Regions from separate parts of the Homo sapiens genome. Here region 2 is linked to region 1. Evidence: fine-mapped expression QTL. Tissue or cell type: whole blood. Region 1 holds a variant in brackets; the other region holds the start of a gene. All regions are shown on one strand. Distances are between the middles of the regions.

Region 1 (8,106 bases):
ACATCCGGCTAATTTTTTATATTTTTGGTAGAGATGGGGTTTCACCATGTTGGCCAGGCTAGTCTTGAACTCTTGACCTCAAGTGATCCACCCACCTGGACCTCCCAAAGTGCTGGGATTACAGGTGTGAGCCACTGTGCCCGGCCAAAATTCTCTTTTTCTGACATCTTGGGCTCCCCAAGCCCTCTGTCCTCTACTCATTCCCATCTCTATGTGTCAAGCTCCAGACACAGGGCCTTGAGCTGTTGTCTCTCATCCTGAGTAAATGCCACTTGTCTTCAGTCCTAGTGCTTGAGAATCCATCCTCTGCTTTTCCCTGCCGATTCCTTGTCCTTTTTCTCCTCAAAGAACAGAGAAAGAAGCAGAAGCAGAGAAAATGGTGACAAACTCTCCACATGTTAATAAATGTTATCACAGCTATTTTTAAGTCTCATTACCTGCCTCACATGTGTCAAACCTTAGAATTCCAAAGAGCCACATACATCACCCAACTACCACAGTGAGTAGCATCCAGACAAGGTGAATTTTACAAGGTTACAAAGCTGCTCAGTTAACTTGTCCCAATCCAGTTTCCTCTCCACTATTTTAGCCTGAACTTCTTGGGAATTTCCTGGCTGCATCATTTGTGATGGCTTCATCTTAATGCATGCAAATCAGTTCCCTTTAGTTTTTCCCTAAATTTCCTAGTCCGGTTGACCAGATAAAAAAATGTGTAGAAGACTCTGCCTTCTATTCCTTCCTTCATCCCCCAGCTACCCACCTTTACACTCCCTCCTCATTGCTCCAGAAAGGAGCAAATCCAGAGTTGGTCTCATTCCAGAATCTGAGAAAGACACCACCTACTTCAGAAGAGCAGAAACTCTTTACAACACCAGGATTGGGAAGAGGTGGCTAAAGAAAAAGGAAAATCCTTACACAAAGAACTACCTGATACACATGAAAGCCTACACTGAGAACATCTCATCTAGGTCTTACCACCAAAAAGGCATTTTTTTCCCTCTCATAGAAACCACAAAGGTCTGAATCTGACCCAGAGGACTATCCTTTTCTAATCATGGAAAGGAATCTTGACTTGAAACTGTCCAAGAGCTCCGACCAATCCAGTAGCAAGAGAAAGGGTGGCCGGGGTGCCTACTGATGGGAGGAGCTCCTGAGCCCAGCCCTGGAGGCCTCAGAGTTCAGGGGCCCACTTAGATGATACCAGAGAGCAAGAGAGAGGAACTGGGGTTTGCGAACCTTGTGGCTTTGTCTGTTTCCTGTTTCAGCAAGGCTGCTGTGCAAAAAGAAAGACGGTACCAAGAAGGGACGTGTTAATGGGGCCCAGACCTATGGATTGAAAGCGTGTGCTTTACCCATCTGCTGTCTTGCTCCATCTGAGACCAGAGCCAAGATCTGCCCAGGACTGGAATGCTTTCCCGAGTGGCTTGAGTTGGAGCCTGGGACTAGGAGGTAACTGAGAAGGAGGATGCTTTTGTGTCCAGGTTTGGGAACTCCAACTTCGGGGTAGGGCAGAAGATGCTCTACCATCCCAGCTCCCCTGGGTGGAGAGTGGGTGGCATAGTTTAAGGGTGTCAGGGGTTTGGGTAACCAAGAAAGTATCCTGTATTGGTTTCCTGTGGCGCTAGCCATGGCACAGGGTACAGCTTGCACCACTCCTCTGTTCCAGTAGATTAGATTACATTAGATTAGGAGTGAGTCAAACGACTTAGAGTTCAGGCTACCCAGTGATATGGGCATGAATTAAATGACCTTTTACAGTTTTCTTCAAAGCAGGGATCCCTGAACACAAGACTGCCTTCCCAGCAGCTTAAGCGCAGGCCCCTCTCCCCTCAGTTCACACTGAGAGCTCTGGGCCAGGAAGGCCAACCCATGCAGGAAGCCATTCATTGTCTCCATTACAAACATGGCCAGGAAGTAAAAGCGAGACTCAGAAAGGCATGTCAAGCCACAGTCAGGTGAGGAGCCATGCCCTGTTCTCTCTCTGCAGCCTGAGAGACCAGGCTGAGCCTTCCCAGCCAGTAAACCTTCTTCCTCCAAGCTCTAAGTGAGCCCAGTCATGCTGCCAGGGGGGAACCTGAGAGATGCCAGAAAGCCTGGGCAGTGGCCAAGTGATCTTTCTTTGAACCCTACAGGGACCAGTTCCCTTTTCTTTAGCAGCCTACCCCTGTCAGCCGTCCCACATACCTTCTTGTTTTCAAGCAAGTCAGTAGGGTCCAGATATCCCAGAAACCTGGGTAGGGTTCTATGCAGCATGCTGCACCAAATCCTAGCAGGTGTGGTAGCCAAGGCATCTGGGAACACTCCCCTCTCTAAGGAGCCATTTCCACTGCAGCTCCTTTCTTGGGTAAGAAGGCTCCATGTCTGCCCCAAGGAAGCAGAGAGCAGAGCAGCTGTGTGTTTCAGTGGACTAAGGTTGGTGGCCTGGGTGGAGAGCCCAGAGAGACCTCATCTCAGGCACTGTCTTCTCCCCCACAGCCCTTTCCTCTTCGCGGCAAGAAGGTAGGAGGATTCTCAATGTTCTGCCTCCACTACAAAACCTGTGGGGAAGCTGAGCCAAACAGGGAGGGGACCTCACACCTTATGTGTGACACAGGCAGACCCCATCTCTTCCTTACCTTTCGGCTTGGTGTAATTGGGATGGCAATTATGTCCAGACCACAGAGAAGCCTTTCTCCTTATAGCCCAAACCCAGAGGTCAGAAGTAAATGTGACTTCAGCCTGGGGCCAGCATCCCCTCAATCTGGTAAACAATATACTCTGTCAAAGAGAGAGAGGGTTGAGAGGATGAGAGAAGGCATTCTTGGTCCTAGAAGTGCTAGTTTAGCTTGGAGCCTTTGTCTTACAGCACCAAGTCTTCAATATCCAACATCGGCATAACAAGGATAATATTCGCAATTACTTTTGCACCAACCTAATAGGAATACTTTATGTCTTTATTATTAAAAGGTAACATTTATTGTGTGCTCCATGCCAGGTGCATGGCCTGCATTTTGTCATTTAATCCTTATAACCTACAAGGCAGGTCCTAGCCCCATTTTATAAATGAGGAGACTGGGGCTTAGAGATGTTTAATAGCTTATCTAAAAACACACACAGGTTGTAGGTGACAGAGCCAGGACATGAGTCCACGCAGTGTGACTCCAAGAGCCAGGGTTCTCCACTGCAATCCATGGCAGAATAGCCAGGGGCTGTGGCTCAGGGATGCTGTGAGTGTAGGTTCTAGACATGGAGTTCACATGCACATAATCCTGCGTCTCCTCCATTCAGTCATTTATAACAATAGACATGGGTCTCTCAGACCCTTTCTTTTAAGTCTTTAAATAAAGAAAGTGGCAGGGAAGAAGTCAAGGGACCACCCCCTATGCCCACTCCCACCCTTATCCGAGAAGAAGAAGTAAGGAAAAACAAAGAAGAGAGCCATTCAGAATGGGTATGTAGAGGACAAACATTAATAACCTCACATTTCTGCTTGGAATCAATGCTGCCTGACACCAGAGTATGCCCCTCCAACCCTCAAGAGTCAGGCATTTGAGTGTCCAGGGCTTGACCACACAAAACTCCTCTCAGGGAAGAAGACTGCCCCACCCATGACCCTGGGGAATGAGTGGTAGGATCAGAGAGAAAACAAGAATCCTGCAGAGAATTCCAGACTGAGCCAGAGTAGCGAAGTCCCAGTAAAGGGGCAGAGAGTCTGCTACCTGTTGAGTCTGTTTGGCCTATAAATAAACCCCAAGGGGTTAGAGCTAGCAAATGCCTGCTAGTTGGTGAAGCTGAGATACCCTCCTCCCAGGGTGGTGGGTAATGAGGTCGTGGGAGGAAG[A/G]GAAGCAGCAGCAGCTGTGAGGGGGAGTCCCTCTTCCTTCATCAGTCCCTGGTCTGACTCCAGTGATCAGAGGAGGCAGGACACAGAATTTCCAACGCTCAGGATCCAGCTCATCCAAATCCAGCCCAACTCAGCAAAGTGACCAGAGGGTTCTAGGAGGATAAACTACAGAAGGTAGGTGGGGAAGAGTAGGAAAGAGAAAGGCACAGAGAAGGAAAAGGGGATTCAGGTCTAGGTGCTATGTGAATATCAGGTAAGGCCATGCAGAGGGTCATCCTGTGGCCCCTACACCAAGCCTGGCTCCCTGGAAACTTCTGATTACTGTCTTTGTTTTGTTTCTTTTCTGTTTGCAGCAGCCTTATTGAGGTACAATTCATGTGCTTGTGGGTTTGGATGGCACAATCTGTGTCTGGGCTAAGGAAAGCAGACTTGGCACCAACATTAACCCTGACAGGTTGGTAATCCTAAAGAAATGGAACCCTCAGCCCCAACAGTATTGGAGCCAGATGCTCTGAAATGGGTTTTGGCCAGCACTAGGCATGTGGCAGATGCTCAGTCAATATTGATTGGACTTGATCTGCACCTGAGAGACACAGCCCAGTCCTGAGCTTGGAGTGGGGGGCCCATGGACCATTGTCAGGACAGCAGGTTGGAGGAATTAGGGTAGGGTTTCCCTCCTAAACCATGCCAGGTCCAGGCTCACAAGCTCGTTGCTAAAAGTCAAGAAGAGAGCAGTGGGTGCTGGTCACAGGACTGGTCACCACCTGAGGGGGTGTGGTTAGCCCTCCAGATCCTTGAGAAGTGTCACTCAACTATGTTAGTGACAGCTTGGACCAAGAGACCAGTAAAGATACTGACTTTCCTTTTCAACTGGGGGATAAGAGGGCAGATTGGCTCAACTTAGCTGCTTCTCTAGAAGTCTGGAAAATGAACACACACCTGCCATCCAAGAGGCTATAAGCTCATTATGATTTTAATCAATTATTTCTCATGTTCCCCTGACTCAGAGGCATGGTAAGATGTTCAGTCAAGGAGTAAGTGGCAGCCATAGAGACCCTTTTACTTTACAAAGGGGAAACATCGGCTAGAGAAAAGCAGGAATTCACTTTTATAAGACTGTATTAGTTCATTAGAGACTGAGCCCAAGAGTCCTGACTCCCACTTTGATACCACCATGTCCTCAGTTTTCAACCCACATGGATGGAACTCTGTGCTATTTCTGCCCCCTGGTCTAGGGAGATAGTCATTTTTCTGCCCATCTTCTGACCCCTCCCCTTCTCCTCCCTCTTGGCATTTGGCAGATCCAGGCATCTATTCCAGGAACTGGAAGCCAAGCGCAACAGGTGCTTGGAGGTCATCATGATCAGCCCAGACCCCAGGCCCTCCCCTGGCTTGGCCCGGTGGGCTGAGAGCTATGAGGCCAAGTGTGAGCGCAGGCAAGAGATCCGTGAAAGCCGCCGCTGCCGTCCCAATGTGACCACTTGCCGCCAGGTGGGGAAGACGCTGAGGATCCAACAGAGAGAGCAGCTCCAGAGAGCTCGACTGCAGCAGTTCTTCAGGAGGAGGAACCTGGAGCTAGAGGAGAAGGGCAAAGCGCAGCATCCCCAGGCCAGGGAGCAAGGGCCCTCCAGGCGGCCAGGACAGGTGACTGTCCTCAAGGAACCCTTGTCTTGTGCCAGAAGGATTTCTTCTCCCAGAGAGCAGGTGGGCCGTGTCAAGGGACATACTGCTGTGTGCTCTGGGACCCTCTCTGGACAAGGAGGGTGGGTGGGCTCAAGGTCACTAAAAAGTGACCTAAATCAAGTCCTTCTTCCTCAGTCATATAGTAAAGTTGCCAAGAGCTACTTATAGTAAAGTTGCCAACAGCTACTTATTCAGAGATTTTTGCTGTTGTGTTTTCGTTTGTTTAGCTCTTTTTGTTCTGCACTTGACTTATAAGAGAGAAAAAATAATTTTTAAAAACAATTTCAGGCTGGGCATGTTGGCTTATACCTGTAATCCCAGTACTTTGGGAGGCCAAGGCAGGAGGATCACTTGAGGCCAGGAGTTCGAGACCAGCCTTTTGATAGAGACAAGACCCTGTCTCTATCAAAAACTTTACAAACTAACCAGGCATGGTGGTGCACACCTGTAGTCCTAACTAATCAGGAGGCAAAGATGGGAGGATTACTTGAACCCAGGAGTTTGAAGCTGCAATAAGCTATGATCACACCATTGCACTCCAGCCTGGGCAAGAGAGGGAGACCCTATCTCTAAAAAACTTAAAAATAAAATAAATAAAAATAATTCCAAAGCTAATGCCTATATCAGTTCAAATTTAGGCAATATACACATGTCTTCTACAGCTATCTTACAGCATTCATTCATCCATCAGTCATCAAATATTTACTGAAAGCTTATTATATGCCAAGCACACAGGCCAGTCTTCTTGACACACACACAGACATATCTGTCCTCTTTTCTTCTGCAAGGCTGTTGTGCCCACTCTTCTCACTTCCTCTTGTGTCATTCCAATTCTATTAAATCACTTGACTATAGCCTCATCTGGTCCAGGAAGCTTTCCCTGGCTTCTCCAGGCCACCTCTGCTGTCTATGGGCCTTGTGAGGTTAAAATCTTCTAAGATTGTGTAACCCTTAGAGGGCCCATTAGTCTGGCCTGGAAAGGAACAATGTTGGCAAAAACCAGGGTATGCTGAGATGACCTTGGCCAGCAAACCATCTTCCTACTGAAGTTGTGAGCATGTTGACAGCAGGGATGTGTCCACTATGTTCCATGGTAATGCTTGGCATTGTTCCCTACCCAGAGTGGGTACTCTATCAGGGCTTCTTAACTAGTGGATCTGTTATGCTCAATAGGAGATGCTGTTCAGAGAAATGATCCTAGAGCCCAGTTGCAAAAGAAAAGGAACTGTATACTAAAGCAAAAAACCTTCCCACAACTCCCCACTTTACCTAGTCTTCACACAAAACCTCAATGATTTTCTAGCTGTTACTAAGAGAAAGGAGGCTTTCCTTTGAATATGGAAGGAACCTTATGGATTATCTATTCCAAACTCCTCACTACACAGACAGAAGACTGAGACCTAGAAAAGATGGGATCTGAACCCAGATCCCCTCACTCCCCACTCAGACCAGTTCTCTTTCCACATCACCATGCTGGCTATGTAAGTGGCCATAACCAAACAAGGTAGAGAGAGAAAAAAAAACAACAACTAGAGATTCTAGAGAGAAAACCTGGAGAAAAGTACAGCTCCACATATGCCTGGCCTGAGGAGGACCATTTCTGCCAGTCAGGACAAGGATATCAGGAGCAGGAGAAGCCTGTGTGGCTCTGAAAGCTTGAGTGGGCTACTTTGGTTTTGTGGATCTGAAACATTGTCTTCGTCCTGTAATGAATTACCACAGACTGGGTGGCTTAAATAACAGAAATTTATTTCTTACAATTCTGGAGTCTGGAGTTCTAAACCCATGGATTCTGCAGATCTGGTGTCTGATGAGAGCACTCTTCCCACTATGCAGATGGCCTTCTTCTCATTGTGTCCTCACAAGGCAGAGAGCAGAGAGAGAAAGCAAGCTCTCTCGTGTCTCTTCTAATAATGGCACTAATCCCATTCATGAGGGCTACCTGCTCTGACCTAATTATTTCTCAAAGTCTCCACCTCCTAATACTATCACATTGGGAGATAGGATTTCAACACACAGATTTGGGCGGGGGGACAATAAACACTCAGTCCATAACAAACATGATGGTTAGTTCTTCCTTCCGAAATCATCAGGAGAGTCTTTCAAGAGGCTCCAGGCAGTGGTTTTCAGCATTCCCCACTTGCCTTCCAGGTGACAGGCACCAGCTCTGAAGTCTTTCCAGCCCAGCATCCTCCTCCCTCAGGCATCTGCAGGGATCTGTCTGACCACCTCTCCTCACAGGCTGGGGGCCTTCCTCCACAGGACACTCCCATCAAGAAGCCACCCAAACACCACCGTGGTAAGAGCAGAGCCTCCCTCACTCCACAGGGCCTGCAGAGAATCCTGAGACAACTGTCCCAGCTCACTGGCAATGGAGAGTCCCTGTCCCTCCCCACTTCCCTCACTTCCTCCCTGTAAGTTCTAAATCAACTTATCCTCCATCTCTCAGGTACTCAGACAAAGGCAGAAGGACCAACAATTAAGAACGATGCCAGTCAGCAAACCAAGTGAGTTCCTGACCCTAACCCTCTCACATCCCATCCATTCCTCTCTAGAGAGAACACAATGAATTTCCATGTCCGCCTTAATTAAGAAAGAGGAAG
Region 2 (8,106 bases), 26 kb after region 1:
ACAGTGATGACTTTGGTGATGTTCTCCCCAGTGCAGAGAACTGCATTCAGAATTAGACAACCTCAGTGACGAGTATCTCTCCTGCCTGCGTAAGCTGCAGCACTGTCGAGAAGAGCTGAACCAGAGCCAGCAGCTGCCTCCCAGAGTAAGAGGGTCTCTCCTTCCCATAAAGCCCTGGATGATGGGACGATTCCTTCTTTAACCAAGTTTTGCACATAAAATATATCAGCCCACGCCAACAACTGGCCATCCTGTCCCACTGTGCTTGGTTTATACTATACTGACATTATGGCAACCATTGAAAAAAACACTGGCTCGTCCATCAAAGCCCAACTTTCACAGAACTCTCAATGCCAGAAGGAAAGACTTACTCTTAGCTAAAGTATGAAAGGGTGTTCTTTTAGCCGATGATAAGCATGGTGGCAAGAACAGAAGGACACAAAAGTACTGGGGAATACAAAGAAAGAATATAATTTTGCTGGGTTATTTTCCACCCTTCATTATTCATATCAGTATTTATATATCTGGTCCCTGATGGATACGGCTCCCTGGGCCAGAGAACATTGGTTAAGTGGTTTTATCCCAAGACAGGTGACAAAATGGGAGACAGAGTAAAAAGCTTTTTCTCCACCACCAACCCAGCGTTTTCCACTGGGCTAGAGTAGGAAGAAGAAAGATTTTTGCCTATATCTTTTCCAATCCACTCATGGCCACTTTCTTCTGTCTCCCTGTCCCCCTACAGAGGCAATGTGGGCGATGGCTCCCAGTGCTGATGGTGGTGATTGCTGCAGCACTGGCAGTGTTCCTGGCCAATAAAGACAACCTGATGATCTGAATAATTTGTGACAACTGCCTTGGGTGAAAATCAGAAGCAAGCAACTCAGCGAAAAACTCAGAAGGTTTGGGTACATTACAGCTTGGGTTTTCCAACTGACTTAGGATTTCTGACTTTTTATTAATTTCTTAACCTACTGTAAATAAACTTCACCTGACCAGATTGTTCCTCAGAACTCTCAGTTTATTCCTGAATGGTGTATTACATTAACAAGTATCACATATTTAAGCATACTGGTGGTCTACTCTCCTCAAATTCAGTTGGAGGCATATAAACATGCAGAAAAGCCCCCAGCCCTACTTTCCTAGCATGCAGCACCCACATAGAGCAGGTATATTTACAAGGTTACCATGCAAGAGTGTTTGGCTTGTCTTCCATCACCCTGCTTTTCCTCTATCATCTCCTTCCTTCTATCTTTTATCCAGTGAAAATGAAAACATCTCCACTAAGAGGACTTCCTAGTATAGAAATGGCAAGTATGTACTATCTACCAATTTGCTACTAGCACCACCATTACCTATTTACATGCCCTTTGCATTTGTGGCCAACTGATCTACAGCATTGTGCCTTAGTGTATTCAAGACACTTGGAATTGGCAGTTGAGATGATTATTTGCCATCCCCAACCTAGAGATGATCATTTACTGAGTACCTTCTATATGGGAGGAGAGTTAAAGTCAGAGGGCCACAGCCGGCAGTGTGACTATCTCAGAGGAGATGCTGAGATCAGCAAAGTCATTCTGAGTCCTAAATCGGGTTCTGAGGTCCTTCTCCCAGGTGTTTAGAATGTCCCTCAGGCCTGGGAACAAACTCTCTGGGACACTAAAAGAATAGAGCAGGATTGGGGGTTGACCTAGCAACCATGAGATCCGGGCAGTGAATACTCGTAGTGGAGTCAGAGCTAAGCAGTTGTCATCTCCCTGGTTCAGGTGAAAGGTATAGGGAACAGGATAGCCCAGGAGGATCCCAAATACAGTACACAGATTCCAGTCTGAGGAATGGAGCCTGCTGTAGGAGACTGCTAGAGATAAGTCCCTCTGCAGCCCCTGCAAATGTGTGATGATCTCAGCCACGAGGGCCTTCAAGTCCTGAAGCTGGTCCAGGGAGCAGACAGAAGGGTGACGCTGGCAGCTGGAAACATCCACAAAGGCTATGGTACCAAGCAGCACCTGCTCCAAGTGCTGACATACATGCTCAGGACTGACAATCAGGCTGTTTTCTCCAATCTCAAGGATGTGAAGTCCAAAAGTCAGGAAGCCAAGCCCCTTCAGCTCCTCCAGATAGCTCTGGAGCTCTGATGCCCCTGCACAGTTGCAATCATAGAGCACAGCTGGCTTCAGTCCCCGGGCCACAGCCAGCACCTCTCCAGCTAAGTGAAGGCAGATGGCTTGGGGTGGACTCCGTCTCTTTCCCATGCCAAGGGTCTGCTGAGCAGCTGCCACCAGCAGCTGAGGGCTCGGTGATGACATGAGATCTAGAAGCAACATCAAGAATGGCCTCCTTAGCTAGCCCGAGTTCCCTTCCCTGGGTGGCATCTTTCAGCCAGACACTTGAGGAGGGGCCTAGAAACAAAGCAGGAGCAGGGAATTATTAACAGCCTTCCTGTTAAATCGCGGTATCTTCCAAAGGTTATTCTGTCCCTCCCTGCTTTGAAATGGCGACCCAGCCCAGACAAGATAGTTTCACCGATGCTGCTTGATTTTTCTGGTTGACTTGGTCTCCCTCAATCATAAATTCGTGTGTTTTTCTAGCCTTATAGCTAGATTTATATTCCCTCTGGCTTTTATTCTAAATTTCACCTGTTGCAAATTACGTTCTCTGGTTCAAACCGTAGGGAATTTGGGGCAGAGGCGGAGGCGGGGCAGTGTTTGGCAAAATTCACAGCATTTCGCCCAAAAGCCCTTCTGGGACAGAGCTCCAAGTTCCAAATGTATCCTTTCCACTGACAACTCCCCTACTCTTCCCGCCAGAGAATAGTTATAAGAATAGTAATTTGATTAATATACACCAGAATGTGGACTAACAACCATCTCACCCTGACACATAAAAATGAATGAATGAAATCCACTAGAACTGCAGAAGGGTAGTATTTTAACTTCTGCTGGCCCCGCCTTCCCTTTCTGTCCGACATCAAGGACCCTCGGAAGATGAGATTTCTCCGATCCACACACCCCACACCAGAGCATGTTATAGTGATTTGCTAAATGAGGCATAAGTCTGTCTCACATACGTTCTTTTTCCACGTCCGCTACAGGTTCGGGGGCTCAGAAACTTTTTGCGGCTTCCTGCCTGCTGCCAGAAAGGCAGCTAGTCCCCCACGCCCAGCCGCAAGTAACACTGGAAAACCCGCCTGCGCTGGGAAGACCCTCGCAGCCCGCTCTGCTCCAGTCCCGCAGGCACCTTCTTGCGCATGCGCACCCACTCGAGTGCCGCCCTCTTTCCCCCCATTCCGTGACGTCATCCAGCCGCTCGCGCGCCTCGCGTTAGAATCACTAGCTAGGCAGCCTTACTGCGCGCCGGAAGTTTGGGCCACCGTGCGGCCCGCCCTTTCCGGCCAGACTGAACGCGGCCCCATCTGTCGGCTTAGGAACTGGGAAGGGCGGAAGTAAACGAGAAAAGGCGGAACCTGGTGAAACTGGTTTCCCGCTGCTGCCCTCATTTTGCTTCGCCGAACGTCCTCCCTGTGTTATGACGTCTGGTGTCCCACTTGACTGGGAATCCAGAAACAGGGCACACAGCAGTTAATAAACACCTTTGATTTGTGTCTGTGGAAATACGTTTTGTCCAGACGAAACATACCTCAAGACAACATATTTTGCAGAATAGCCTCACCTGTGGGTGGTGCTGAAACGTTTTAATTTTTTTTAACTTGACTTCCCTAAATCCTACATTTGAGAGGCCTACAACAGCTCTCTAGGGAGGGTGTGAAGGTGTGAGTATTCACTTTGAACAAATATGTGCCAGTCATGCTGCTAGGCCCTGGAGGTACTGCAGTGAGCAAAACAGACAAAACCCCCACTTTCATGGGGCTTAAGTTCATGTCTACTGAATCCAGTTTGCTGATTTCAAATAAGAAATGAGAAGTGATGACACAGAGGCTTTCCAGTCAGGTCATTACAAAGAAAAAGTGTTATTTCACGTAAGAGTTAACACCTTTTTAACTACCAGCGATTTGACCCATGCCACGAAGGGAAAGGATTTCTTGAGAAAACCCCAATATCTAAGGAAATGGCCCCAATTTATTTATACTTGGAGCAGGACAGAGATTAAGGGAACAGTGGACACCTACACTGGAGTTGTCACTCCTGGATCTATCTTGGTGGTGCCTTCAGTCCATGAAAAGTGAATTGTACAGTAAAGATGGGGTCAGCATGGGAGGAGGACCAGCTTATAGGAGTTACCAGCCTAAGGCTGTCTGGTTCTTAGCTCAGAGGGAATCAGAAGCTGAGAGTAGAAAGTAGTCTTCTAATTTTAGAACGTTTTCCTTCCCCGCATTTATTTAATTTTCCCATGGTGGTTAACAGTAAATCCCTAAAAGACTGATTTAGTTCATTCATTTATTCCAGCAACAAATATTTGAGAACACACTGTGTCCCAGACACTGTTCTAAGGACTGGCAGCGAAGTCCAAGACAAACAGTCCCTACCTTCAGCAAGTTTGCAGTCAAGCAGGATGCGGATGCTGAGCATTACAAGGGAAATGATTATTCTGAGAGAGGAAGTATGGGGTGCTATGGGAACATACAACCAGGGACCTAATTTTATGGGAAAGGGACCAGCCCAGATCCAACACTTGCTCTCCCAGTTTACCTCCAGTAGGTTCTTTTTAACTTGAACTAATCTTGTTTGGTGGGGTACACAGTGAGGAAAAAGAAGAGCTAGTGACAAAATCTAACTCCCTTCTCAGTCTTAAGCAAGGTGAAGGCAAGGGAGTAGAAGATATCAAGGGAGTGAGTGGTGGTAGCCACCAAAGGAGATAGCAGACTGAGGCCCTAAAAAAAGAAAGGAAATCTAAATCTATCCAGCAGGACCAGAGAAAGAGTGCTGAGGGTGATTAGATGGAATCCCTGCATGTACTCTCCCGGCATTCTGAAAAGAAGCCAAAACAAGGAAGAAACCGGGGTATCTAGTTAAGACCTCACAAATCACTCATCCATTCCTCTGACATGTTCATAAACTTTTTATAGTGGTTACGAACCAAAAGCTTGGCATTTCTTGGCACTTTTCCAATACCCTTTACCAGCTCACATTATCTGGGCTCCCACCCAGGCTACAGATAGCCTGGCTGTTAGCACTTCACAGAAGGGATATAGACTGGCCCAGATTCAAGAGCTGCCCTTCTAATTTACCTACAGTGGGTTTTTAACTTTGAGTTCCCACGTAGAGATGGGGCAGCCAAATATCAAGCCCAAATCCCTCACTTCACCTACTCAACAAAATGACCCCCAAAATGTAAAGTTTCTGTGCCTTTAATGCTTCCCGGTCCCTAAAAGCCCAACTTTTCCTCGAAGCTGGGCACCTGACCTTTAGCCAGGTTTCTTAATCTTTTCATGCTTTTCATAATAGCAAATTCCACTAGGTCTCTTAGAAACTCTAAAACCAAGGCTTAAGCACTTTAAATAAATAAGTCCTCATGTCACCACTGATTTTGAACTTTTAGTTTTTAAAATAAGGCTAGCTCAACTTTTGAGTCATTTTGAAAAGTTGGAGATGGCCTGGTTTAAAGGTACCAGACTAGACATGGGCTTCCTTACTATGTCCCGACACAGACAGATAGGCATCACTATTCAAGAGGACTGGGGCTTGCAACCACAGATTAGCATCTTATTTGCCATTTAGGTCCCAGATTGCTTGAGCCCAGGAGTTCAAGACCAGCCTGGGCAACATAGCAAGACCTCATCTCTACAAAAATAAAAAAAAAATTAGCCAAGCATCATAGTGCACGACTGTTGTCCCAACTACTCAGGAGGCTGGGGCAGGACGATTGCTTGAGCCCAGGAGCTTAAAGCTGCAGTAAGTGGTGACTTGCCACTGCACTCCAGCCTGGGCAACAAAGCAAGACTCTGTCTCAAAAAAGAAGAGAAAGCTGAAAGGGTTAGAGACTCAGCAGATGTTTCTAGATAAGACCAGTTTGTGACAGATACAGCTGCATTGTTCTATACCACTCTTTACCTTCACTGTTCACACTCAGATACCTCCACTAGTAAGGGAGACAAGCAGGTTCGTGCTAGGTGAGCCTTTCCAGAAGAGTACTGCCCAGCCCTTCTTCATCCCAGCCTTAACACACTCAACAACCCATTTCTTCCAACTGCAAAAAATCTAAATGATACTGTCCCTTTTGTAGTCAGAGAAGTACATCTTAGATCCCCAGCTCAGTCTAGCTCAGAGAAGAAAACAAGAAAAATAGAGCTCTTTCCTCTTAAAGCTAACACCTGAGTCACATACTGTCACCTACCCCCTCTCCCTGCCGCCCCCCCAACACACACACACTGGTATTTGAGTGGTAATAAGGTAAATGCCTGACAACCTATTCTTCCACAGAATCCCTAGGCTTTCTGTGTCAACAGCTTCCCTTTAGAAGCCAAATTTGTGAGCTTTCACTCCACAGGCTGGGTGACTTTCAGACTTTGGCACCCATTTCTATTTAGATATCAAGCATAGTTTCTAAGCAACCAGCCAGCCAGCTCCTCTCCCTCTCACTTCCCCCATCAGGGAGCCAGCTTACTATACTAGCAGAACAGGTCAAACAGAGCTCGATCCTGGACAAATCAGTGCTTGAGGAAACTTTAACAAAACCAAGGAAAAATGTGGTACAAGAACAATGCAGAAGGATTCTGTTCCAGGCAGTTTAGCCTTGTACAAGTAGAAGAAGGTCATTGAGTCCGTTCTAAAGCTGGATGCAATTTCAGGCACTACTCCAATCTCTTCACTTTATAAGCAATAAATCTGAAGCCCAGAGGTTAAAGGACTTGTTCAAGGTCACATTGGAAGCAAAGCTGCAGCTAGAACTTTGGTGTCCAAACTCCCAGGCCAAATCTCCTTCTACTATGCTATATCATACTACCATTAGGAGATTTGAAAAAGAAAAGCAAAGTCTGAAGGGTGATTTTTCCATAAATTAAATCAGCTTTAAATCTAGGCATATTTGGAGAATCACAAACTTCTAACACTGTTAGAGAAAAGAGAGATTTAAAAGCTGGTTAAATCTAAACAATAAAAAAATCCATATGTACAATATTATAAAAAAGAGAAGGAAGAAGATGGCATTCACAATTACTGGGGAGGCAGGGCAGGGGGCAGTTGCATGCTGGGGGTGGGCTGCATGGGCTGCCAGCTCTCCTGGGTTTGAAGGATGCGGTACAGCTGCTTCAGCTGAGCAACGATGTTATCCTTGATGTCTGGGGTTGAGATCTGCAGGCGGACACTGCCACTATCAAAGGATCGTGTGAAATCACCAGAAAACATCTCGTAGATCATCCGAGCCACTACTGGAATGACCTGTTCAGGACACAGAACACAGGTGTATCCTCTGAGGAAAAGGTATTTTTAAATAGCACAATGGACCCAAGATTGAAGGACAGACCAAAGAGGCCCTGAGGAAGACCCCATTCTGATGTCTAAATATAGGATATGCCTTCATCTCTCTGGACCATCCTTCTGCCAAGGCTCACTGTGGAAGTTGGTTCAAATGAAGGTAAAGAACCTAGATGTAACATTACATCACAGGCCTAAATAAATGACTGCTTACTTTGCAAGACTTTTTACAAAATATCATCTATTGCTTGCCTTGCTACACAACTCCAGGGGCAAAGCCCAAGTGGCCTTGCTGCCACTTCCTAGAATAAATTTATATTCCTAAAAGTAACTCAAAAGGTTTTTCTAAGAAAGGCTGGAAAGGGCCAGGTATCGTGGCTTACACCCATAATCCCAGCATTTTGGGAGGCTGAGACAGGAGGATCACTTAAGCCCACGAGTTCCAGACCAGCATGAGCAACATAGTGAGACCTCATCTCTGCTAAAAATAAAATTAGGCCAGGCATGGTAGCCTGTGCCTGTTGTCACAGCTACTTGGGAGGCTGAGGTGGGAGGATCACTTGAACCTGGGAGGTTGAGGCCACAGTGGGCTGAGATGGTGCCACTGCACTGCAGCCTGGGCGACACAGCAAGACCATGTCTCCAAAAAAAAAAAAAAGTGCAATTTACATTGTGTGTGTGTGTGTGTGTGTGTGTATTTGTGTGTGAAGAAAACCTGGAAAGGGTCATATCCTGTGAG

What was found. PIP is the estimated chance that this variant, and not a neighbour inherited with it, causes the effect.
Region 2: it holds the start of C1orf74, and the variant in region 1 is fine-mapped to the expression of C1orf74 in whole blood (TOPMed, PIP above 0.99).

The regions. Positions count from the first base shown.
Region 1 is chr1:209,754,861-209,762,966 of GRCh38, forward strand. It overlaps TRAF3IP3 (TRAF3 interacting protein 3), which reads left to right and starts at 1,193. Exons shown (of 17, transcript NM_025228.4): 1 at 1,193-1,449; 2 at 4,174-4,274; 3 at 5,122-5,524; 4 at 7,655-7,802; 5 at 7,953-8,010. The coding sequence starts at 5,180. RefSeq lists enhancers at 916-1,075, 1,356-1,765. The variant A/G (reference allele first, on the strand shown) is at 3,821.
Region 2 is chr1:209,781,314-209,789,419 of GRCh38, forward strand. It overlaps C1orf74 (chromosome 1 open reading frame 74), which reads right to left and starts at 3,246. Exons shown (of 2, transcript NM_152485.4): 1 at 3,065-3,246; 2 at 1-2,396. The coding sequence starts at 2,321. The coding sequence ends at 1,512. TRAF3IP3 (TRAF3 interacting protein 3) reads left to right here. Exons shown (of 17, transcript NM_025228.4): 16 at 32-145; 17 at 743-997. The coding sequence ends at 835. IRF6 (interferon regulatory factor 6) reads right to left here. Exons shown (of 9, transcript NM_006147.4): 9 at 4,304-7,331. The coding sequence ends at 7,107. RefSeq lists enhancers at 2,951-3,568, 3,125-3,384, 3,569-4,184.